2 separate regions of the Homo sapiens genome follow, and region 1 is linked to region 2. The links come from fine-mapping of genetic effects on gene expression. Tissue or cell type: whole blood. Region 2 holds a variant in brackets; the other region holds the start of a gene. All regions are shown on one strand. Distances are between the middles of the regions.

Region 1 (8,104 bases), 33 kb after region 2:
TCCTTTGTAATGTCCTTTATGGGTAACTGTAAGTAAAGTGTTTCCTTGAGTTCTTTTTTTTGAGACGGAGTCTTGCTCTGTTGCCCAGGCTAGAGTGTGGTGGAGCACTTGGCTCACTACAACCTCTGCCTCCCATGTTCGAGCGATTCTCCTGCCTTCAGCTTCCTGAGTAGCTGGGAATACAGGCACCCACCACCACAACCGGCTAATTTTTGTATTTTTTTGGTAGAGACAGGGTTTCACCATGTTGGCCAGGCTGGTCTCAAACTCCTGACCTCAGGTGATTCGCCTGCCTCGGCCTCCCAAAGTGCTGGGATTACAGGCATGAGCCACCGTGTTTGCCCTGTTTCCTTGAGTTCTGTGAGCCACTCTGGCAAATTCCCTGAACCCATGGAGGGGGTCATGGGAACCCCCAATTCATAGCCAGTTGGTCAGAAGCACAGGTCACAATGTGGAACCTGTTATTGGCATTGGAAGTGGGGGCAGTCTTGTGGGACTGATCCCTTAACTTGTGGGATCTGTCCTAACTCTGGTTAATGTCAGAATTGAGTGAAATGATTGCTTATCCTGTTGGTGTCTGTTGAAGAATTGGTTGGTGGTGGGTAGAAACTCCCTCACTTACTGGTGGAGTACAACTGGCCCTTAAACAATGTGAGCCTGAACTGCGAGGGTCCCACTTACACATGGATTTTTTTTTTCAATCAAATGAGGATCAAAAAGACGGGATTCTCAGGATGCAGGAACTCAAGTGTAGGGAGGGCTGACCTTTCATACACACAGTATAGATTGTGGGATTTTAGTATGGTTGGATTTTTGTATCTGAAGGGCTCCTGGAACTAATCCCCTTCCTCTACCCAGAGAGGACTGTACTCTGTGTTGAGCGGTGACTTGTGTGTGAGAGTAGGAAAAACTCTGATTTTTCCTAAGTTTTCTAAATTATTAGTCCTGGGGTGGGGTGTGGTGGCTCATGCCTGTAATCCTAGCACGTTGGGAGGCTGAGGCAGGAGGATCACTTGAGGTCAGTAGTTCCAGATCAGCCTGGGCAATATGGTGAAACCCTGTCTCTACTAAAAATAGAAAAATTACCAGGGGGTTGGGGAGGGGGGGTGGCGGGCACCTATAATCCCAGCTACTCAGGAGGCTGAGGCAGGAGAATTGCTTGAACTTGGGAGGTAGAGGTTGCAGTGCGTGAAGATTGCTCCACTGCACTCCAGCCTGGGCAACAGAGCAAGACTCCATCTCAAAAAATAAAATTAAATTAAATTAAAATAGCTAAGTGCGGTGGCTCACATCTGTAATCCTAGCACTTTAGGAGCCCAAGGCAGGCAGATCACTTGAGATCAGGAGTTTGAAACCAGCCTGGCCAACAAGGTGAAACCCTGTCTCTACTAAAAAAAAATACAGGCCAGGCGTGGTGGCTCACGCCTGTAATCCCAACAGTTTGGGAGGCCAAGGAGGGCAGATCACAAGGTCAAGAAATTGAGACCATCCTGGCCAACATGGTGAAACCCCGTCTCTGTTAAAAATACAAAAATTAGCTGGGCGTGGTGGTGCACACCTGTAATCCCAGCTACTCAGGAGGCTGAGGTGGGAGAATCGCTTGAACCTGGGAGGTGGAAGTTGCAGTGAGCTGAGATCATACCACTGCACTCTAGCCTGGGCGACAGAGCGAGACTCTGTCTCAAGAGTCTCAAGTTATTTAAAAAATAAATAAATAAATAAAATTATTAGCCCTATGTGTCAGCAGTCTTAAATGAGTATCAAAGGACAGTATCATCCCAGCTAAATTGATTAAGCACCTTTTATACACCGGGCATTACACTAGGCAGTGGAAATGTAAAGAAGATTAAGGTAAGACCCTGCCCTCAAGTCGCACAACTTACACACAACTTAGCACAACTAACAAGAAAGACTTTTCCCTTTTCCGCTGGAGCTCTGTTTGGCAGGTCAAAGCTTTGGAAAACCAATGGAGTGGATTTTTTCCTGAATATCCATAATTATCCTATTCAGAGACAAGGAAATTAATGACATCAACTGCTTTTCTAAGCAGCAGTCTGAGCAGTTTCTGCCTTTGTCCCTAGAAAAAGTACCAGGCAGAAGGAAACTCTGCTAATTCAATTAGATGTGAAGAACTAACCTATGAGAAAGTGATCATTCAGTGCTGTAGGAGTGCTACATGGAGGAGAGTAGTATTCAAAGACAAAATGCTTAGAGAAGGATGTGTAGTTCATTATTTGAGTCAGCTGATTGTGTTGACATTTTCTTAGGGGTGGGTGGGTGGGGAGTGAAAATCTGGAAAGAGAAGGCATTTCATTTAGAACACATTGTATTTTTTCTTGTGAATATAAGATGAAAATCTTTTATTCAATAGCAATACAGGTCTCGCATAAATGAAGTTCTAATTTTCATAACAGTTGTTAAGTTCTCTGTAAATCTGACAGTCACTTAATACCAACTTTAAAATGGACATTGTTAAGTATGATTCAGTGAGGTCTTCAGGTATAATAATAGGCTATAACCAAAACTTCCTATTAAGCAGAGGCAAACTCTGCCGGGTGTGGTGGCTCACACCGATAAGCCCAGCACTTTGGGAAGCTGAGGCAGGTGGATCGCTTTTTTTGTTTGTTTTTTGAGACAGAGTCTCGCTTTGTCGCTCAAGCTGGAGTGCAGTGGCGCGATCTCGGCTCACTGCAGGCTCCGCCTCCTGGTTTCACGCCATTCTCCTGCCTCAGCCTCCTGAGTAGCTGGCAATACAGACGCCCGCACACCACGCCCGGCTAATTTTTTGTATTTTCAGTAGAGACAGGGTTTCACCGTGTTAGCCAGGATGGTCTCAATCTCCTGATCTCGTGATCCGCCCACCTTGGCCTCCCAAAGTGCTGGGATTACAGGCGTGAGCCACCGCGCCCGGCCTAACTTGTATTTTTAGTAGAGACGGGGGTTCCACCACGTTGGCCAGGCTGGTCTCGAACTCCTGACCTCACGTGATCCATCTGCCTCGGCCTCCCAAATTGCTGAGATTACAGGTGTGAGCCACTGCGCCTGGCCGGTATGTGTTTTTTTAATCCCTAAAGCTTGGTAGTTTAATATTAAATTCAAATTACTGTAGCCTAGGACTCTTTTGAAAAATACTTGACAGCTTCGTTTTTGACCTATCTCATTAGGCTGAGTTCTCTTTTATCTTTACAATACAGATGTTTAAAATTAAAATACAGATCGGCCGGGCGCGGTGGCTCACGCCTGTAATCCCAGCACTTTGGGAGGCCGAGACGAGCGGATCACGAGGTCAGGAGATCCAGACCATCCTGTCTAACACGGTGTAAACCTCGTCTCTAATAACAATACAAAAAAAATTAGCCGGGCGTGATGGCGGGCGCCTCTAGTCCCAGCTACTCCGGAGACTGAGGCAGGAGAATGTTGTGAACCCGGGAGGCGGGCTTGCAGCGAGCCGACATCGCGCCACTGCACTCCAGCCTGGGCTACAGAGCAAGACTCCGTCTCAAAAAAAAGAAAAAAGAAAATTAAAATACAGATCTAGATCTGGATTTTGTTAGGTTTTTTTTTTTTTTAACAACCTAAGGTTGTTCAGAAACATCTATTCTATGTATGTGCTTCTTTAGTCTGTAATTTCTAGGCAGATTAGTTGCACCCTGTCTAGACTCCTTTCAGAAAAATACTAACAATATGTTTTTCTCTGTCTTGGGCTCCACATGGGTGAATTACAGGAAAGCTTAACAGGTACTCAGAGCAACATTTTTTCCTACTTCATGAAGGGCCTAAATGCGAACTCTTAAGTATTTCTCGTTTGCTTTTGTTCTTTTCCCAGGTTTACCTAATCTGTAAGTGTAAGATGCAGTCGATGAAAAGTACTATGGGAATTCTTGAGCAAATCAGACCATTCAAAAGGAAACCACTTCACGTAATGGTGCATAAGGAAGCTAGACTCACCAAAATAACCCTGTTAGGTAAGCCGGATACACCATGGAATACGGCAATCCTCTGTTTAATTTGCAAACCCTTTGGCGGGGAGGAGGAAAGGATGGAAAAATTTGGGTGAAGGCTTTATATGACTAGTCAAACAAACGGTGAGTCATTGAAATTTTCCAGTTAACAATCCCTTCTGCCTGGGCAGAGCCTGGGCCCCAGCGCTTTATGAGCCACACTGCAGTTTTAAGCCGGAATATCTCACGGTTTTATTGTTTCTTCCACGAAATGATTACATAAAATGAAATCAGCTTTGCAATCTGCACCGGCTTTGAAATGAAGGGCAAAATCTGGCTGGGGGTGAGGAGAAAGAAGGTGGAGAGAGAATAAGGTACGGAGACTGTGAGGCAGAGAACGCAGGAAAGGTGGTGAAAAGAGAGTACAAGAATTTTCGGGAGCTGAGTGTATTTTTCTTCCCCATGTTATAGATGCTGTCCGTTTTCCCCCAGCCTGTGTCCAGCAGGCCAGAGTGGACCCCTCCTATGGGCTAAAATACTCTCGGTCTTCGGCCCAGCACAGAGCTGCACCAACCAGGGCCTGCCGCTGCCCCCCCACCAGGTGACAGGTGGGGCCGCCGAGCGGCCACCAGACCTCCGCCTCCTCGCGTTGCCTGCCGGGAGCCGGAGCCGCTTCCGGTTGCGCCCTGTCCCTGAACTTCGACTCCCGTCGGCCCCCGGGAAAACCGCAGCGGGGTAGCGCGGGCGCTGCCGGAACTTGTAGTTCCACCTCCCGCCGCGCTAAATAGCCGGAAACGGGGGCGGCCAGAACAGAGAACTACCGAGGCGAAGGTACGGGTGGCGGCGAGGGGTCAATCCGCGCCGGGGGTGGGGTTGGCTGTGAGGCCGTCGGAGGTGGTTGGGTGGGAGGAGATCCGCTCACACACACGAGGAGGAGGGTTGAGCTGCCGCCGCCGCCGCCTCTGTCGTCGTCGCGAGTGTGGAGTCGGGACTGGAGCTGCTGCCGCGGCGACGCCGGGGATCTTTGTCGCTAGCTCCCGGCCCTTCTGCCCCGCCGCCTTCCCTCAGTCAGCGTTGCCCACTCCTCTCCGGCCGGGCGCCCCTGCCTCCATTTCCCGCTCTCTGTCCACCACACACACGGCCCCCCCGATCATGGATCCGGGCAGTGGCGGCGGCGGCGGCGGCGGCGGCGGCGGCGGGAGCAGCAGCGGCAGCAGCAGCAGCGACTCGGCGCCTGACTGCTGGGACCAGGCGGACATGGAAGCCCCCGGGCCGGGCCCTTGCGGCGGCGGCGGCTCCCTGGCGGCGGCGGCCGAGGCCCAGCGGGAGAACCTCAGCGCGGCCTTCAGCCGGCAACTCAACGTCAACGCCAAGCCCTTCGTGCCCAACGTCCACGCCGCCGAGTTCGTGCCGTCCTTCCTGCGGGGCCCGGCAGCGCCGCCACCCCCAGTTGGCGGCGCCGCCAATAACCACGGAGCCGGCAGCGGCGCGGGAGGCCGTGCGGGTAAAGGCCCGGGACGCGGGAGGAAGTCCGGCCGGGCGCCGGAGCCCACATGGCGTAGGGGTGCGGTCCGGGGGCGCGCGGCCCTGGGGCCCGGTCGGCACGTGGGGCGCTGACAGTGGCGCCGTCTGCCTGGGTGGGGCGCCCCGAGCCCGGGAGCCGGCCTTCGCGGGGCGGCCCGCGGCGGTGGCCGGGCGGGGAGCGGACAGCGGGCAGCGCGCCCAAAGACCCGGACCCGAGTGCCGCCCCTCCGCGCCCCTGCCCTGCTCTGGAGTCCGCAGTTACCCACTTGAGATGGGAACCGTATGGAACGGAGTGGGGGCCGCGGCGGATCCCTGCCACGAGGCGCAGAATGAGGACAGATGGAGCCAGGAGTCATTTGGGTGGGCGTTTAGAGATCCCAGGAGTTGGGGAGGACGAATGGCCGAGTTTTCCTTTCACCTTAGGCCCAGCCGAGAGAGCGTCTTCTGCTGCGTTTTCTACTATTGAAACTGTAATTACGGTTTAAACTGTCCGTGGCCCCCAACCGTCCTGAAGGAATCCCAAGATGCATTGCAGCCTTGTGATCGGGCAGAAACTTGGCTATCAATACCAAGATCTGTTTTACCCTTAGCATTGTGTACGCTTCTAAAGTTTACAAAGTGCCACAAAGTTAGGATTCCTCACTTAATGTGTGATAGGAGACTATATTGATTTGTGTCTTTTTAAAGTGAAGCTTACACTTTTATCCTTTGTCAGCGACACGTTTAGAGAATTTTCATTGCTGTAAAATCGTTGACCTTATTCAGATTGCTTGGAATAACTCACTGTGTTCGTGCATCAGTAGTTCAGTCTATTTCTTCAGACACTTGAGCATTTGTTATAATTTAATAGTTCTCACGTGTCTTTCTGACCGTAGCTAGTAGACATACATTTTCTAATCCATAAAATTTCGAGTTAACTTTGGTTTTTAAACATCTTCCCGTACTTAGGGGTTGCTTAAGTCGTAGGTAGCATGCTTGCAGGTGCTGACGTTGTAGGAATATCCGGTGAGTGAACTTATGTATTCTCATAATGGTGCTTATTTTGTGGTAGGTAGCTTGCTTTCAGGTACTGATTTTGTGGGAATGTCAAATGAGTGAACTTAAGTATTCTCTTCCTAATGGTGCTTATTTTAGGAACTATCAGTGTTTCCTTAAAGAGAAAATGAAAAAGGAAGGAAAAGGCTGAACGTCCTTTCATCATTTAGCCAGGACGTTAGTGGGGTGGGTCATGACATCCAGCGCATTTTAAGTGAGAACATATTGTTGATTTCTCTCTTTAAAGTTCTGTATTGTGGTGGTTCTTAGATAAGTGGACATTATAAAAGTGCTCCAGGAGTTTGGTTTCTACAGAAACTTTTGTCACCGTTTGCTCTTTCGTGGTAAAGGGATAGTGTCTGGAGAAACACTCTGATGACGTATGTACGTCAGCACGGTTGATTTGGTGGTTTTGTTGACAGTGGCATTTATTTGTGTGGGTGGTTGATGTTTTCTTTTGAGGAGATCGAGCACTTTCAGGGTGGTACGGCTCTAGACAATGTTTTCCTCTTGAATAAGGAAGCTTAGCTTGTAATTCTTGACTTACATCAAGCCATTTTGACTGCCTAACCTAGTTCACTTCTCAGCTCCTAAAAGTGCCCATTCCCTACCTTACTTTGCAGATTCCGTTTATCCAGCCATTTTCTTTCTTGGCTCTTCCTCCTTTCTGTGGAGCCACCAGCACCACTCTGACTAGACTCAGGACTCCATTTACAGCCTGTCCAGCGAGTCATCCGGGGATAACCAACCTTGGTCTAGAATGGTCACTGTTGGTGACTAGGTATTACCTCTTATGCGGGCTTTCTCTCTTCCTGATAGTTGCTAATTTGTAGTTACACCTAATCTTTTTCTCTTTGACAGTGCTAGAAATTGGAGATGCGAAAACCTGTAGGGAAGTAGCTGTCAGTAAGAGAATCCGTACAGCATGGTCAACTTTCTTGTTTTTAATCAAAAAACTATTTTGGTGTTACCGACTTTACCAATTGCTTGTACCAAAATGCCAGTTCATGTTTTTAAAAAATTATCCTATGTAGGATGTCTATTTGGAAAAGAACTGATTTTCTAAGTTGAGGTCCAGGGTTATATTGAGACTGTTGGATTGCATGTTCCAGACTATTAAGTCCATAAAAAGCCAGCATCGGAGAACAATCAGTGCTTATAAAAAGCAGGGGGATAAATAGGAAATAACACCTGGATTGGAACTTACAAAGGGGGAACCAAAAAGTTTGCAAGGTTTTTTTGATAGCGAGGAAGTGGACAATAGGGCTAGCATGTTCTGTTCTTTAGTTAAGCCATAGCCGAAATTTGTGCTGGGTGTGTTTTTAAACTGCATGCCGGGAAAGCTGTTGAAGGAGCCTGGAGAGTCAGACCTTGGGATTCAGTATTGACCTTGGATCTCTTTGAAAACTAAAGAATATAGGTTCCTTAAGAAATAATTAAGTGGAACCCATTTAAGTGTAATTAAGTGTAATTCATTTAAGCACAGTTCTCTAGAGCCAAGTAAATTGGCCAAGAGATTCTCCTTAAAAAGTGAGGTCCCCAAGTGAATAAAAATATAGAAGACAAGGCTTAATGTATATTAGAACAAGCATTTTATCTGATAG
Region 2 (8,104 bases):
TAGTCTCAGCTACTCGAGAGGCTGAGGCAGGAGAATCGCTTGAACCTGGGAACCTGGGAGGCGGAGGTTGCAGTGAGCCAAGATTGCTCCACTGCACTCCACCCTGAGCAACAGAGCAAGACTCCGTCTCAAGAAAACAAAAACAAAACCAAAAACAAACAAACAAAAAACCCAAAAATTAGCCGGGCGTGGTGGCAGGTGCCTGTAATCCCAGCTACTTGTGAGGCTGAGGCAGGAGAATCACTTGAACCCAGGAAGCGGAGGTTGCAGTGAGCCAACATTGCGCCACTGCACTCCAGGCTGAGCAACAAAGTGAGACTCCACCTTGAAAAAAAATACAGAATGAATTAGGGTTTTCAATGCAGCACTGAAGTCCTCCAAGTCCGTCAAATGGTTAAATAAATTTGATGGAATGAATTCAGCAGAGACCTGAACAGGGACCAGAAGCGACCATGAGAACATGAGCACTCTAGTGCTCTTGACCTTGAGAATCCACAGGGAATACACTTGGGGTTCAAGTCAGTCTTTTTAGAATCCAAGGGGCAGAGAGATCCCAAATAGCATCTGGGCACATGTAAACATTGAAGTAGATTTTTATGTTCTAACAAAGAAAGATGGCGATAAGGGCCAGGCACGGTGGCTGACACCTGTAATCCCAGCACTTTGGGAGGCCGAGGCGGGTGGATTACCTGAGGTCAGGCATTCGAGACCAGCCTGGCCAACATTGCAAAACCCTATCTCTACTAAAAAATGCAAAAATTAGCCAGGCATGGTGGCACGTGCCTGTAGTCCCAACTACTCAGGAGGCTGAGGAAGGAGAATCGCTTGAATCCTGGAGGCAGAGGTTGCAGTGAGCCGAGATTGTGCCACTGCACTTCAGCCTGGGTGACAGAGCAAGACTCTGTCTCAAAAAAAAAAAAAAAAAGAGAAAGAAAGATGGCCGTAGTACACTACTAAGTTTCGGGTGTAGGGGTTAGTCATCGAATATTGTTAAGGTGGGTCCTATTTCCATTTGAAATGTAAATATCATGTACATGACAACAGATTCTTTCATATAGATTCAAGATCAAAACGGCATACCTGCTAAGATAGACTGTTGACTCCAGGGGTTTCTTTTTTTATTTATTTTTATTTTTTATTTTTGAGACGGAGTCTTGCTCTATCATCCAGGCTGGAGTGCAGTGGCGCGATCTCTGCTCACTTCAAGCTCCACCTCCCCGGTTCACACCATTCTCCTGCCTTAGCCTCCCGAGTAGCTGGGACTACAGACGCCCGCCACCACACCCAGCTAATTTTTTTCTTTGTTTTTTTTTTTGTTTTGTTTTTGTTTTTTTTTTTGAGGCAGAGTCTCACTCTGTCGCCCAGGCTGGAGTGCAATGGCTTGGCTCACTGCAAGCGCCGCCTCCTGGGTTCACGCCATTCTCCTGCCTCAGCCTCCCAAGTAGCTGGGACTACAGGCGCCCGCCACTACGCCCGGCTAATTTTTCGTATTTTTAGTAGAGTCGGGGTTTCACCGTGTTAATCAGAATGGTCTCGATCTCCTGACCTTGTGGTCCGCCCGCCTCGGCCTCCCAAAGTGCTGGGATTACAGGCGTGAGCCACCGCGCCCAGCCTCTTTGTATTTTTTAGTAGAGACGGGGTTTCAACCTGTTAGCCAGGATGGTCTTGATCTCCTGACCTCATCATCCGCCCGCCTCGGCCTCCCAAAGTGCTGGGATTACAGGCGTGAGCCACCGCACCTGGCCTACTCCAGGGGTTTCTATCAATACCATAAAAAACCTTTTCCCTTTGACATACTCTGAATTTTGTTGTTTGGGGGCTGGGTGTGTGTGTGTGTGTGTGTGTGTGTGTGTGTGTGTGTGTGTATGTGTATGTGCAGTGTCCATCTGTATCAGTGCCAGTGCCTGCTACATTCCTGGTTCTGTATTGAGGAGAAGGATGTATAAAGAACCATGAAATATTAGCCCTCACTTTGTTTTGAATTCTGAGTAATGTTAATTTTTCTTTTCTTTCTTTTTTTTTTTTTTTTTGAGACAGTCTTGTCTGTCGCCCAGGCTGGAGTGCAGTGGCATGATCTCGGCTCACTGCAAGCTCCGCTTCCCAGGTTCACGCCATTCTCCTGCCTCAGCCTCCCGAGTAGCTGGGACTACAGGTGCCCGCCACTATGCCCGGCTAATTTTTTTTTTTATATATTTTTTAGTAGAGACGGGGTTTCACCGTGTTAGCCAGGATGGTCTCGATCTCCTGACCTTGTGATCCACCCGCCTCGGCCTCTCAAAGTGCTGGGATTACAGGCATGAGCCACTGCGCCCGGCCGAGTAATGTTAATTTTTCTCGAAACTGAATTTTCTTAAAAGAATTTTTTTTCTTTTAGATTTAATGAGGTATTGCTAACTGAAGCCAGTTTGACATAGTGAGAGAGATGTCAAATTGATTTGAAAGGTGTGCAGCCTGATTTAAAACTAAACCCTGAATCCTTTTAAAGAACAATAAAACATATTTTACATGCAAAAAAATCATGTATATATGTTAGTATATGCATAGGAAAAACTAGAAAGAAGAGTGTTAGCCAAGCCATCCAATGTCTTACTTCTCTGTATGTTCTCAGCACCTTCTCAGTTAGATGCTGAGAACATACAGAGAAATAAGAAGTTTTAATGTAAATTCCACGAAGAAAGAGAACTTTTGTTTTGTTCTCTGTTATGTTCCCAGTGTCTGACACATGATATCTACTTGGTAAATATTTATGGGCTGGAAGGGAGAAGGAAGGAAGGGAGGATGAGAGGAGGGAGGGAGCGGTAGAAAAGAGTCCTGGCCCCCAAGTTGTTCACTGTTATTCACAGCCAGGCTTGGAAACAGATGTGTGGGCAGAGTGCAAAGAACATTGGGAGAAAAGGGCTCTGAGTTGGTAGGGACTTTGCATAAACTCTCTCTCGTCCTTATGTTAGCGTCCTCCTTTCCTCAGAAGAGAAGTCATTTGCAAAGTCATCAGGCATGAAGCCCATCTTCAAATTCAAGGCTTAGCGGGCATGGTGGTTCAGGCCTATAACCTCAGCATTTTGGGGGGCTGCAGCAAGAGGATTGCTTGAGCCCATGAGTTCGAGACCAGTCTGGGCAACATAATAAGACCCTATCTCTTAGAAAAAAATTAATTAGGCTAGGCGTGGTGGCTCATGCCTGTAATCCCAGCACCTTGGGAGGCTGAGGTGGGCAGATCACCTGAGGTCAGGAGTTCAAGACAAGCCCAGCCAACAGGACGAAACCCCATCACTACTACTAAAAATATAAAAATTAGCCAGGGGTGGTGGCAGGTGTCTGTAATCCCACCTACTCAGTAGGCTGAGGCAGGAGAATCCCTTGAACCCGGGAGGTGGCTACAATGAGCCAAGATCATGCCACTGCACTGCAGCCTGGGTGACAGAGCGAGACTCCATCTCGGAAAAAATAAAACATAAAAAATAATAATTAAAAAACAAATTCAAGGCTTATGTGGTTGCAGAGAACACTCTTCTTTGAGGACAAATGAGAACCAGATATTCCTGTTAAGTCGGGGGCACAAGTGTTGGCAATGAATATACTGTATCTCCAAAGCAGATAGATCTTAGACAACCAGAATCTCTGGGGAAAGGCCGCATTCATCAACCTCTGGGGGAAACTGGCTTCAAGTGACTCAAAGGTGACACCCAATGTCGCTCTGGGTAACTACACAGAAATCCTAAACGGTGTTAAAGAAGAGGGAGCAAGGCTGCCCTTTACTTCCAATGCTGTCCAGCCAGCTCCATAAGGCTCTGAGAGGCTGGCTCAGGTGAGCCAGGGCTCAAGTGAGGAGACTGGCCAGGGCTTGGCTAAAAGAGCCTGTCACTCAAAAGTAAGCCCAAAGCAAGATAAGCTGCATTCTCAGGGCTGCTGTATATTTTCTCAGCCTGAATAAGCTGCTGCTGATTTAGTTATCCGGGTTCTTCTCGGATTCCTGTGGCTGCATTTGAATAGCAGAAATCCTGGCAAGAGGAGATGAAGATCTGGGCTAAAAACTTCACTGAGGCTAACATCTCAGGAGGACCCTGGTGTCACATGAGCCTGGGTGGGAATCTGCTTTGCCTCCTACCAGCTATGTAGCGCTGGTCACACAACTTCACCTTGCTAAGCCTCAGTTTCTTGCTTTTTAAATGGAGATGATGATACCTATTTTGCAAGGTTGCTGAGTTGATTGCATGAGATCACCGACGTGCACAGTAATAAAATAGAAAAGGCTTCGCAAGTATTGCTGTCATTACTACTGTGGCTGACATTTACTAAGCCCTTACCAAAGCCTTTCTCTCTCTTTTTCTTTTTTTGAGACAGGGTCTAGCTCTGTTGCCCAGGCTGGAGTAGAGTGGCCCGATCACAGCATCATGGCTCACAGCAGCCTCAACCTCCTGGGCTCAAGCAATCCTCCCATCTCAGCCGCCTCCCTTACAAGAAGCTGGGATTACAGGCATGCGGCAGGCACCACACCCAGCTAATTTTCAAATTTTTTGTAGAGACAGTGTCTTGCTATGTTGCCCAGGCTGGTCTCCAAGTCCTGGCCTCAAGCAATCCACCCACTTCAGCCTCCCGAAGTGCTAGGATTACCGACATGAGCCACCACACCCAACAAATCACTGCCTTTTTCAATGCTCACAGCAAACCTCTGAAGTAGCTAATATTTCTTTTCTTTCTTTTTTTTTTTTTTTTTTTTTTTTTTTGAGACGGAGTCTCGCTCTGTCACCCAGGCTGGAGTGCAGTGGCGGGATCTCGGCTCACTGCAAGCTCTGCCTCCCGGGTTCACGCCATTCTCCTGCCTCAGCCTCCCAAGTAGCTGGGACTACAGGCGCCCGCCACTACGCCCGGCTAATTTTTTTGTATTTTTAGTAGAGA[C/T]GGGGTTTCACCGTTTTAGCCGGGATGGTCTCGATCTCCTGACCTCGTGATCCATCCGCCTCGGGCTCCCAAAGTGCTGGGATTACAGGTGTGAGCCACTGCGCCCAGTAAGTTTCCATTTTACACACTCCACAGTCTGTATTTCCTATGAATTGGTACTTGGATCTACAGACTTGTTTGTATTTATGTTCAGTCTTTTTGCCAAAAAATATTTCAAAAATGGTGTTGAGCGTGCTTTCCTCACAGACGCACAATGACCAATTGTCTCTTTGTGGTATCGGCAGCCATTGGTGCTTGATGACAGGATCCACAGTTCATTAGGAGTGCTTCTTTATTTCTGTTTGGTGAGGTGACCAGGTCACCAACCCTTCCCAGTTCACCTGGAACTTCCCCCGTTTTGGCACCTTCAGTCCCATGGCCCAGGAAACCACTCAGTCCCAGGACAGCTGGTCACCCTGCAGGAAAGCCATGTTTTAGGCAGTGACTCTTCCCACCCCCACTCTGCCTCCCTTTGCCATAGTGGGCAGAGAAGTAGGAGACAGGATGTGGATAACGGGCTGGAGAATGCAGGGGGAGGGGTCTGTATCTAGTGGCCAGTCTTGGGTGTAATTGACACCTTAGTAGTTGTCCACCTAGTATCCGCTTTCACCTTCTTGCAATCCCCTGATTTTTTGATTAGGTAATGGTCCCTACCCACAGCCCACATGCTTCACGGGCACTGATGCTAGCCCCAGCTTCCATGACCAGCTGCTCCCTTCCAGAACCCAGGACGAAGCCGGTCAGTGCAAGCCAGTCCCCATGCCACACCTTGGGCCAATAAATCACAAGGGGTAATTTGTCAGAGGCATTTGGGAAAACATTTCCTTATTCTTTTTTTAAAAAATTATATTTACTTTTATTTTTTTCATCTAGAATTTCTGATGAAGATCACTCTTTAAAATATGTATATGTGGCCAGGAGCGGTGGCTCACGCCTGTAATCCCAGCATTTTGGGAGGCCGAGGTGGGCAGATCACGAGGTCAGGAGATTGAGACCCTCCTGGCTAATACGGTGAAACCCCGTCTCTACTAAAAGTACAAAAAATTAGCGGGGCGTGGCATCGTGCGCCTGTAGTCCTAGCTACTCGGGAGGCTGAGGCAGGAGAATGGCGTGAACCTGGGAGGTGGAGCTTGCAGTGAGCCGAGATCGCGCCACTGCACTCCAGCCTGGGCGACAGAGCGAGACTCCATCTCTCAAAAATAAATAATAAATAAATAAATATATATATATATAAATAAATAAATAAATAAATAAATAAAATATGTGTATGTACCTATGTACACACACACACACACCATTCAACCATTGGCTGGGCATGGTGGCTCACACCTTCCAGCAGTTTGGGAGGCTGAGGCAGGAGGATATCCTGAGCCCAGGAGTTTGAGACCTGCCTGAGCATCATAGTGAGACTCCATCAGAACAAAAAAAATTGTTTAATTAAAATATATATAATTGAATTTTATTTTATATATTATATATATGTTTATATATATACCATATATATATATATATATAATTCAAATAGTTGAATTTAGGCTGGTCAAGGTGGGTCACACCTGTAATCCCAGCACTTTGGGAGATTGAGGCAGGTGGATCACACCTCAGGTCAGGAGTTCGAGATCAGCCTGGCCAACATGATGAAACCCCATCTCTACTAAAAATACAAAAATTAGCCGGGTGTGGTGGCGGGCGCCTGTAATCTCAGCTACTCAGGAGGCGAGTTTATGTTACTTTGTGTAAACATATGCTTTCATTCCTCTCAGTCAGAGATACCTACGAATAAGATTGCTGGATCAATTTATCTTTACATTTTTATTAAACTTTCCAACTGCTTTCCAAAGTGGCAGGCCCCATTTTACTTTCCTACCGGCAATGTGGGAGAGTTTCTGTTTCTCCATAGCCTCACCACTTATTATTCTCTTTTTGAGTATTAGTCATCCTAGTGGATATGAAGTAGTATCTCATTATGCATTGCTTTTCTTAAAGATATGGTCTCACTCCGTTGCCCAGGCTGGAGTACAGTGGCACAATCATAGCTCACAGTAGCCTCAAACTTCTGGGCTAAAACTATCCCCCCACCTCAGCCTCAGCCTCCTTAGTGGCTAGGACTAAAGGCACACACCACTGCGCCTGGCTAATTTTTTACCTTTTTTTTTTTTTTTTTTTTTTTGAGATAGAGTTTAGCTTTTATTGCCCAGGCTGGAGTGCAACGGTACGATCTCGGCTCACCACAACCTCCACCTCCCGGGTTCAAGCAATTCTCCTGCCTCAGCCTCCCAAGTAGCTGGGATTATAGGCATGTGCCACCATGCCTGGCTAATTTTGCATTTTTAGTAGAGACAGGGTTTCTACATGTTGGTCAGGCTGGTCTTGAACTCCTGACCTCAGGCGATCTGCCCGCTCTGGCCTCCCAAAGTGCTGGGATTACAGGTATAAGCCACCATGCCCAGCTCTCTGGGTTCTTTCCTTCCTTCCTTCCTTTCTTTCTTTCTTCTTTCATTCTTTCTTTTTTTCTTTTCTTTTTTTTTTTTTTGTAGAAGCCACAGGAAGAAACAAATCATGAGGGGATGGTTTGACAAGCTACAAACACTGGAGTCATAATATACCTGTATTTAACTTGGTAAATCCAACTATGCATGTTTGAATGTGAGAGAGACAGAGAAAGAAAGAGACAGAAATGAGACAGACAGAAAGAATAATGCTTTAAATAATGCAGGGGTTTCTGCCTTCCACTCTGTAAGAACATAGAACCCATGGGCTGAATAGAAGGAGGAGAGGGCACAGCTGTCCTTCCCTCAGCCTGTCTTAATCCAGGGCCTTCACATTCCCTATGCTCAGCATGACTCCAGCATTTTGTTTTTGTTTTTGTTTTTTTTTTAAGACAGAGTCTCACTCTGTCACCCAGGCTGGATTGCACTGGCACGATTTCAGCTCAGTGAAGCATCCACCTCCCGGGTTCAAGCGTTTCTCCTGCTTCAGCCTCCTGAGTAGCTAGGACTACAGGGACGTACCACCACACCTGGCTAATTTTTTTTGTATTTTTAGTAGAGATGGGGGTTTTACCTTCGTGGTCAGCCTGGTCTCAAATTCCTGGCCTCAAGTGATCCACCCACCCCAGCCTCCCAAAGTGCTGAGATTACAGGTGTGAGTTACTGCACCCTGCTTATTT

The links. PIP is the estimated chance that this variant, and not a neighbour inherited with it, causes the effect.
Region 1: it holds the start of GSPT1, and the variant in region 2 is fine-mapped to the expression of GSPT1 in whole blood (TOPMed, PIP 0.91).

The regions. Positions count from the first base shown.
Region 1 is chr16:11,912,710-11,920,813 of GRCh38, reverse strand. GSPT1 (G1 to S phase transition 1) reads left to right here and starts at 4,858. Exons shown (of 15, transcript NM_002094.4): 1 at 4,858-5,445. The coding sequence starts at 5,094. RefSeq lists enhancers at 2,918-3,418, 4,719-4,868, 4,477-5,414 and silencers at 4,469-4,528, 5,239-5,308, 5,399-5,638, 5,679-5,728.
Region 2 is chr16:11,945,387-11,953,490 of GRCh38, reverse strand. It overlaps a transcript of NPIPB2 not described here. Among named protein-coding and RNA genes, the nearest start is that of NPIPB2, 7.4 kb to the right of the region's middle. The variant C/T (reference allele first, on the strand shown) is at 4,897.